Homo sapiens: one gene and its partner. The protein of the gene in region 1 interacts with the protein of each later gene in a pairwise test. Each region holds a gene or a part of one and is shown in the gene's direction. Other genes may lie near its edges.

Evidence for each region.
Region 2: the proteins of COPB2 (region 1) and MSRA interact in a two-hybrid assay, tested with the Homo sapiens proteins (one large-scale study listed by BioGRID).

Annotation. Positions count from the first base shown.
Region 1 is NC_000003.12:139,365,348-139,369,375, reverse strand, and holds part of COPB2 (coatomer subunit beta'), read left to right. Parts: intron 1-8; coding exon 9-115; intron 116-1,087; coding exon 1,088-1,231; intron 1,232-2,230; coding exon 2,231-2,361; intron 2,362-2,600; coding exon 2,601-2,808; intron 2,809-4,028. UniProt on the Homo sapiens protein: The coatomer is a cytosolic protein complex that binds to dilysine motifs and reversibly associates with Golgi non-clathrin-coated vesicles, which further mediate biosynthetic protein transport from the ER, via the Golgi up to the trans Golgi network.
Region 2 is NC_000008.11:10,052,909-10,057,091, forward strand, and holds the start of MSRA (mitochondrial peptide methionine sulfoxide reductase isoform a precursor), read left to right. Parts: upstream 1-1,383; 5' UTR 1,384-1,608; coding exon 1,609-1,750; intron 1,751-4,183. UniProt on the Homo sapiens protein: Has an important function as a repair enzyme for proteins that have been inactivated by oxidation. Catalyzes the reversible oxidation-reduction of methionine sulfoxide in proteins to methionine.

The DNA of each region.
Region 1 (4,028 bases):
CCCTTTAGGTATCTACGGCGGCTTCTTATTGGGAGTCAGATCTGTAAATGGCTTAGCCTTCTATGACTGGGACAATACAGAACTCATACGAAGAATTGAAATTCAGCCCAAACATGTGAGTTTCCCCTCCATTGTTGTTTTTGGAATATTTATTTTTGTGATGAGTTCTGGGTCCCTAAGGCCAAGAAGTGTCTTTTGTACCCTGCTCTCCCTCTTCGATTATCAAAAGCCATTTAAAATATAAAACAGCACTTAGAATTTAAATAACTTCTTATACTTTTGAAATACACATTGTCTACGGCCTCATTAGGATACAACAATCCTGATTTTCTGAGCAATTGGAGGTAAGTGGCAGTGCCATTTTGACAGGAAAAAAGCATGCTTTGAGAACAAGAAGTCAGAGAATTCTTGACTTGGAAATGCCTTCTTCCACATAGTTCAGAAAACCTTTTCATACATTTTGATGATAGCTGCTTGAACTTGAGGTGACCATCTCCAGTGACAAAGTGTTTACCTTTAGAACTGCCCGCTGCTTTGACAGTTTTCACTGTCAGGAGATTATCTTTGGAAACAAACCAGCTTTTCTGGGGTCTGGTTCTAGAGCACGCATCCTCAGTGGGTGTAAACATTGACTTGGGGGCTTACTCTTTATGAATAAAGCATAGCTATACATATGTATATGCATTATATATGTATATCTGTGGTATTAAAATTTCATTGGGGGAGGTGATTAGAAAAATGTCCAGAAAGACTTCTAGGGAGGGTGGGTGAAAATGAAAAAAATAAAAAAGGTGATAAACACTGTTCTAGAGCAAGAGGGAATAGGCTACTGGTCCTCTGTGTAGCACATTCAGTGTTTACTGACAGCTCTCCTTTCCTGTCTCCCTTTGGTCTTTCCATTGCTAGGCTAAATAGCATAGCCACATAATAGCTGGCCACCCTCCCAAATAATGCCACATAAAATTGTTAAGTGAATACTTATCATCTTGATATAAGAAGGTAAATGTTGTAAGAAACCAAGTATGTGCAGTTTGTCATATCCACTCAGAAATCCAAATCAGTTGTCTATGATTTTGTTGTGTTGCAGATTTTCTGGTCTGACTCTGGAGAGCTAGTCTGTATTGCTACTGAGGAATCATTTTTTATCCTTAAGTATCTGTCAGAAAAAGTCTTGGCTGCACAGGAAACACATGAGGGAGTTACTGAAGATGGCATTGAAGATGCCTTTGAGGTAATTGCATCAGCACAACTTTCGCTTTCAGCTTTGTTTTTAAATGATTTATATTCTTACAACAGACTTTACTGATTTTAACATTTCGTTATAAATTAGGTGTAGGGAGACAGCATTTAAGGATTTCTGGTGAAATGTGAAAAATTAAAATCGTAACTCATAGATCAAAATTTAAAATAAATATGTTTAAAAGAAATTTGTACTTTGATTTTAAGAATTCTTTAGACTTACTTTGATATCTTTCAGTAAAGAAATTATAGTTGTTTTGGTCCTAAGACTATTTAGTCAGTGATTTAAATAAGCTCCCAAATGGTAAATCATTTATTGTGCAGATGTCCTAGATTTTGTGAAATACTTAATATTTCATTGTCATGTTATGAAGGGTCTAAGTTTAGATCAGTATTCTTTTATATCATGATTTTGACCCAACAATGAGATTTCACATTACAAATACTAATCTAGGAATCTGTTCTGTGTTTTGTTTTGTTTTTTTTTCTGTTTTGAGCCTAAGGGTTATATTGAGTAGGAATCTGTTCTTAAATGAAGAAAGAAATTCCAGCGGGGTGCAGTGGCTCACACCTATAATCCCAGCACTTTGGGAGGCCGAGGTGGGCAGATCACTTGAGGTCAGGAGTCTAAGACCAGCCTGGCCAGCATGGTGAAACCCTGTCTCTACGAAAAACATAAGAATTAGCCAGGCATGGTGGCGGGCGCCTGTAATCCCAGATACTTGGGAGGCTGAGGCAGGAGAATCACTTGAATCCGGGAGGTAGAAGTTGGCAGTGAGCAGAGGTTACGCCACTGTACTACAGCCTGGGCAACAGAGACTTCATCTCAAAAAAAAAAAAAAATTCCAAGGAAAATTTTTTTTTTCTAGAAATAGGAAGGATTTTACTTTGCATTCCTTATTCTGCCATATCACCCTCAGATATATTCAGCTTTTTATTGAGAGATTTCTGATGTTGGATAAAGTAATTGTCTTTATTTTTCTTTCTGCAGGTTCTTGGTGAGATTCAGGAAATTGTGAAAACAGGGCTTTGGGTAGGCGATTGCTTCATTTACACAAGTTCTGTGAACAGATTAAATTATTATGTTGGAGGAGAAATAGTCACCATTGCCCACTTGGACAGGTACCTGAGTATCATTTTGCATTTGTCCTAAATTTTAAAGTGTGTTTAGAAAAATCTGTTGCTGGCTTGTAGCAATGATAGGCTGATTTTTCAGTGTTATAGTTTTAGTAGGTTGCCTATTGTTAACCAGAATTGTGTCAATCAAATGGGAAGGTTTTGAGCAAGAGGGAGATTGGCGGGGTGTGTGTTTGTGTAATTGCAGATTTGAATTTCTAACTTGGTTTCTGTTTCTTTTATAGGACGATGTATCTCCTAGGCTACATTCCTAAAGACAACAGGCTTTATCTGGGGGATAAAGAATTGAACATCATTAGCTATTCCCTGCTGGTTTCAGTCCTGGAATACCAGACAGCTGTCATGCGGAGGGACTTTAGCATGGCTGATAAGGTCCTTCCTACCATTCCAAAAGAACAGAGGACCAGAGTTGCACACTTTTTGGAAAAGCAGGTAAGAGGTTTTGTTTTTTTCTTTTTGTTTTTTAAAACTTGCAATTTGAAAGCAAATTATTATGGAGTTGAAAAACTTTATTTCTTAATTGCCAACTGATTTCCTGTGGCAATAGAATTTCTCCTGTGAGTTTAAGGCACTTATTACAGCACATGATACACCCTTCTTACACTCTTCCTTCTCCTTTCTCAGTGCCCCCTTTAAATGTTGGAGGTGATTTTCAGTCTTCCTTTTCTGTGCACTTATTTTCCAGTCTCCTGATATTTTCATTTCTACACTGCATTTTTAGCTTTATCCCATCTGCTTTTTAAAAAAAAATGATTAAAATACATATAAAATGTACCATGACATGACTTTTTCTTATGTAATGTTTTTTAAGCAAAGTTACATATGTGCAAAGCATAAAGTAAGTTTTGCAAAGCTTAAGAAAAAAATCAGCCCTCCTTTTTGCTTTCTACTCCCTAGAGGTAATTATTTTATCTAATTCTTTTGGTATTTATTTCCATATCTCTAAATAACTTGAGGTATAGCAGTTTCTTCATTTCTTAGCTTTAGGCATTTCTTGTGACTTCCCCCTCTGTAGAAGATGAGAATTTCGCCTTCTTTCATTCCCCTGCGTCTACCACATACATGCCACTTTCCTATCCTTTATCTCTCAGAATAGTTCTAATTTTGATTGATCACTACTCAAATGTTTACATTATTATGGCTATGTAATCACTGCTCACAGGTGAACATGTAGCATATTATCTAGCTTTCCTTTCCTGCAATTGTTTGTTTTCCCTAGTTTATAATTGTCTTTTTCCCCCCTTTGCTTAATTTTCTATGTACCTGTGGTTAATTCTCCCTGGACTTTGCTGGTTCTCCAGAGTTCCTGAAGATCTCCTTTCAGTTTGCTTAGTCTCCTTCAGACTGCACTGGTTTTCCTGCTCTCATCATGGATTTCCCCTCACCATCATGTTGGGGCTTCCTTTGCTTCTGTCCTGTTGGATCCATTGTTTCTTATACCCCTATCTCCTTTCCTGCTTTGCTCCCTCATTTTAGGGGAACATGCCCTTCAGCAATTTCCTGAGAAAAGGATTGTTAATGAGAGATAAATTGTTTTGTGACTTTGAATATCTGAAAGTGCCATTGTTCTACCCTAAAACATATTCAACCATTTAACTGGTATATAATTGTTGGAGGTAATTTTCTCTCAGAATTTTGAAGGCATTGTTCCA
Region 2 (4,183 bases), on another chromosome or scaffold:
CTGTTGCCCGGGCTGGAGCACAGCAGTGTGATCATAGCTCACTGCAGCCTCTACCTCTCTGGCTCCAGCGTTCCTCCTGGTGCAGCCTCCCAAGTAGTTGGGACCACAGGTGTGCGCTACCACACCACCATGCCCAACTACTTAAATACCTTTTTTTTTTTTTTTTTTGGTAAAGATGGCGTCTCAAACTCCTGGCCTCCAGCAATCCTCCTGCCTCAGCCTCTCAAAGTGTTGGGATTACAGGAGTGAGCCATCATGCCAAGTAAGTTATTTCTTCACACTAAACATTCTTCAGCTCTTAGTTGCAGAGTATTTCTAGCATGTGAAACTTCATACAATCAACCACAAAACACAGACAAATCAGTATGTATCAAAAAGAAGTAACTGAAAAACACAAAATATTGTCTTTGACAGAATGACTATTTTTTCAGACCCTTAATAGTGACCAGGCCTTCGCAAGCCTAGAAGGGACTCCTGGGGGTGTTTTCATGAAAGGCCTGTGGAACCGACTTGGTATAGCCTCATAGCAATAACAAACAGTTTAGGTATCATTTTGTCCAGGGGAAATACAAATTACAAAATCAAAGCTAGAGCCTTTTTAGTGTTGTATGCCTGGCAACACACCTCATTCTACACTATAGCACTGCTAAGCCTCCTGCCCTCCTTACAGTCCAGACCACATGAAAACAAAGTGGTAACTAAATCCATGCAAGAAGCTGGGTGAAAGCCTCCTTTCTGTGGGTGCTAATCTGAAGTTCCCTCCCTCATCTGAGACGACCTGCCCATTTTGGCAGAACATGTGTTAAGCCAAAATCTCACACAGATGAACTCCCAAGTCACTCACCTCGCTCCAACCACTTTACATTTAGTTTGAGAATGTCACAGGAACAAATGTCATCTCCTATGATTTGAGAAACAAGAATAATACAACACCACCATTAAGTCCACCTACACTGCCTTAATGGTGCTGTTGGTGCCTTGCTCCCGTATTTTGGCCGCTGCAAAATGGGCTTAAATATGTTTGTAAATACATAACTTAATATTGAATTCATCTTCCCTATTCCGCGCATTTTGAGAACTGTGCTTAGTTTTCACTTTGGACGAATAGCAACCCTTCTGATGGCCGTCATGACAATGTCTCCAATAAAAACTGACAGTCTAGCTGGCTGCAAGGCAGGTCCTCTTCTATCTTACTGGGCACTGCTAAACTGCGAAGTCGGGGCGACACGGCAGCAACTTTAAAATCAAACCGCATCCCCAAGGGCTCGGCGTGTTTTTTGGCCTCTGCAGCTTCACGTACTTCGTACGACAGGAGCGCACTTGTTCTCTGTCCGAGAACTTCGTCCCGAGAGAACCTCAGGAACTCGCCGGGCCACACCCCCTGTCCAGGGAAGGAACACGCCCCCGGTGACAGCCGGTACGGCCCCGGGTTTGGGCAACCTCGATTACGGGCGGCCTCCAGCCCCGCCAGCAGCGCCCCGCGCCCGCCCGCCCGCGCCCCTGCCGCCCCCCGGTTCCGGCCGCGGACCCCACTCTCTGCCGTTCCGGCTGCGGCTCCGCTGCCGGTAGCGCCGTCCCCCGGGACCACCCTTCGGCTGGCGCCCTCCCATGCTCTCGGCCACCCGGAGGGCTTGCCAGCTCCTCCTCCTCCACAGCCTCTTTCCCGTCCCGAGGATGGGCAACTCGGCCTCGAACATCGTCAGCCCCCAGGAGGCCTTGCCGGGCCGGAAGGAACAGACCCCTGTAGCGGGTAAGCACTGGCCACACGGAAGGCGCGGGCGGCGACGCTGCGCATGCGCGCCTTTGCCCGGCGGCAGCGCGCCCGCTGCCCGGAAGGAAGCCGTGGGCTGGCCTCGGGCGGGTCGCGGGGTGGGGGTCTGCGCAGGCGCGAAGGGGCGCCGGCAGTGGCCGGGGAGACGCTGGGGTCCACTGACGTCCCTTTGTCTTTGTTTGGCTCGTCATCTTCTGGAGCCAAACTGGGCATTCTGAAGGAATCTAGTGCATCGGTCTCACTTACCCGGAGTGCATACCGTCGCGGCCCCAAGTTTTGGGCAGGAAATGTGCCGCTGGGGTCTGGCCTTGCTCGCGGGCGCCCGCGGCGCTGTGCCTGCGCCCTCCTTTCTTGTCTCCTCTGCGCCGGCCGCCGGGACCCAGGGCACCTGCAGCGGGGCTGGTGCGAGTGTTGTCCCGGGAAATGCCGGAATGAGACGAGACGATGAAAACCTTAAGTGTGGAACTGCGTCTCAGGCCAGTGTTCTGGCTGAGTCACCCCTAGTCACCCCTCGTGCCCTAGGTCGGCCCCGCTGTCCCCAGGGGCAGGGGCTGCCGTATGCTGGGTCAGCTTAAAGCGATGCTCCACAAACTTGGACAACTTTCTAGTCGTTCTCACATCAGTACTTTGGGAAAATACAATAAGGGTGAAATACTAGAAAAATGTTCACGTGCTTCGATGCCATGTAATGGTAAACTGCTATAAAAGTTTTCAAAATCTTGGCAATTTCTGCTGCAGACAGCACGCGTTTCCCAGAACGAGGGCCACACGTTAATATTACCTTAGTGCAGCGCTTCTCAGAGTGCCCCCACCTGCCGCAGCAGCAGCAGCATCACCACCTGGGTGGGCGTTCCCCCATTACTGAATCGGAGACTCTGGGGGTGGAGCCCAACAATCTCTAAAACAAGTCCTCCAGGTGATTGTAATGTACGCTGTAGCTTGTAAACCACTGCCTTAGAGCTGTTGGAGGATTAAGTGATGTTTAATCTACACATGGCTCAATGCCAGAGAAATTCAGCATTTAAAAAATTTCCTTAGAAGTTTCTTTTTCTTTTCCTTCAAGAATTGTTGAGGATAGGAGGAGGTCATATTGAGAGTTTGTCATCTCGTAGAATAATCAGTATGAGATTAGAAAAGGTAGAGGTTTTTTGGATTAGAGGCAGTTTAGAAATCGTGTGACTGGCTTATTATTAATCGAATTAGCAGTTTCTGTTTCCTGGTTTCCCCATCATTTCACCTGCTACTCAGCCGTAAAAGTTTATTTTTGATTCAAATGCAGAGATTGAGTTTTGAAACAAATCTAGATTAGTAAACATCTATACTTATATATAGATTTATAAAATATAACCAGATTATCTAAAACTTATAAATGCATCTTAAAATTTTTTCTTTCTTTTACAGGCAGGAATTTATACGTGCATGTTTAAAGGCGATACTTTTCAAATGCCAGACTTCCTCAGCTTGTGCTATACTTCCCGTTCACACACTGCCGTGTCTTTGCTATGCCCTCCCATACACCAAAAAAAAAAAAAAAAAAAAAAACCCCAAATAATCCAAAAACTCTTGTTCAGATTTCCAAACTGGTTCAAGGTCAAGATGGACCAAAATTTACTTTGGCTTTATCTTAACCAAAGTCTTCCCAATCAGTTTCCTAATATGTAAATGACATTTTTGGTAAAAGATGAGCAAACATTTCAGAAATGAGCCAACAATTTTTTTCTTATCCCCATCATAACTTTTAACTGCAAAACCTCAGGACCTGGTTCTTTTCCAGGCTCTGCTGTCTCCATATAGCTGTGAGTGTTTTTGGTACACCAACACATCTCTGTATCTGGGCCAGTAAACTTTTTTTTTTTTTTTTTGGTGTAGGGCCAAGCCTACAATGCATATGTCCTTATTGTTCATCTATTGTAACTTTTTCCACAAAAAGTGTGTGAAATTTAGATTGTGGACGTTCCAGTCTCCACTTCTGAGCCTTGAGAGGTTGCTGAAAGCCCTGACTGGCTCCAGAAATGGGCAGTGTTACCTCTTCAGTGGGTTTCAGTAGCTGTAAACTTGAAACTTAAGGATTTAGTATTGTTCTGAATGTGGAATTCACCTCCACTGCAACTTGGATCCTGTTTAACAACTCCTCCCTTCTCTATATTACCTCCATCCATGTCTGTTCTTATTTGTACCCTGACCCTCAAAAGTTGCGTGACAAAAGCATCACCTTTTGACTGCAGAAGGCCTGTTTCTTTAGTGCGTTTAGATAAGCCTAGTATCAGGTGTGTACCATTACCAAATACTTGAGGTGTTAAGGATTACCATCTTAGCGTTCATCCTACCATTTTTATATTCTTAAGGACAATTCCACCCTTTTACACACTGTGACCAAGATTTCCACCTTGCAAGAAGGAAAGAGTCAAACCT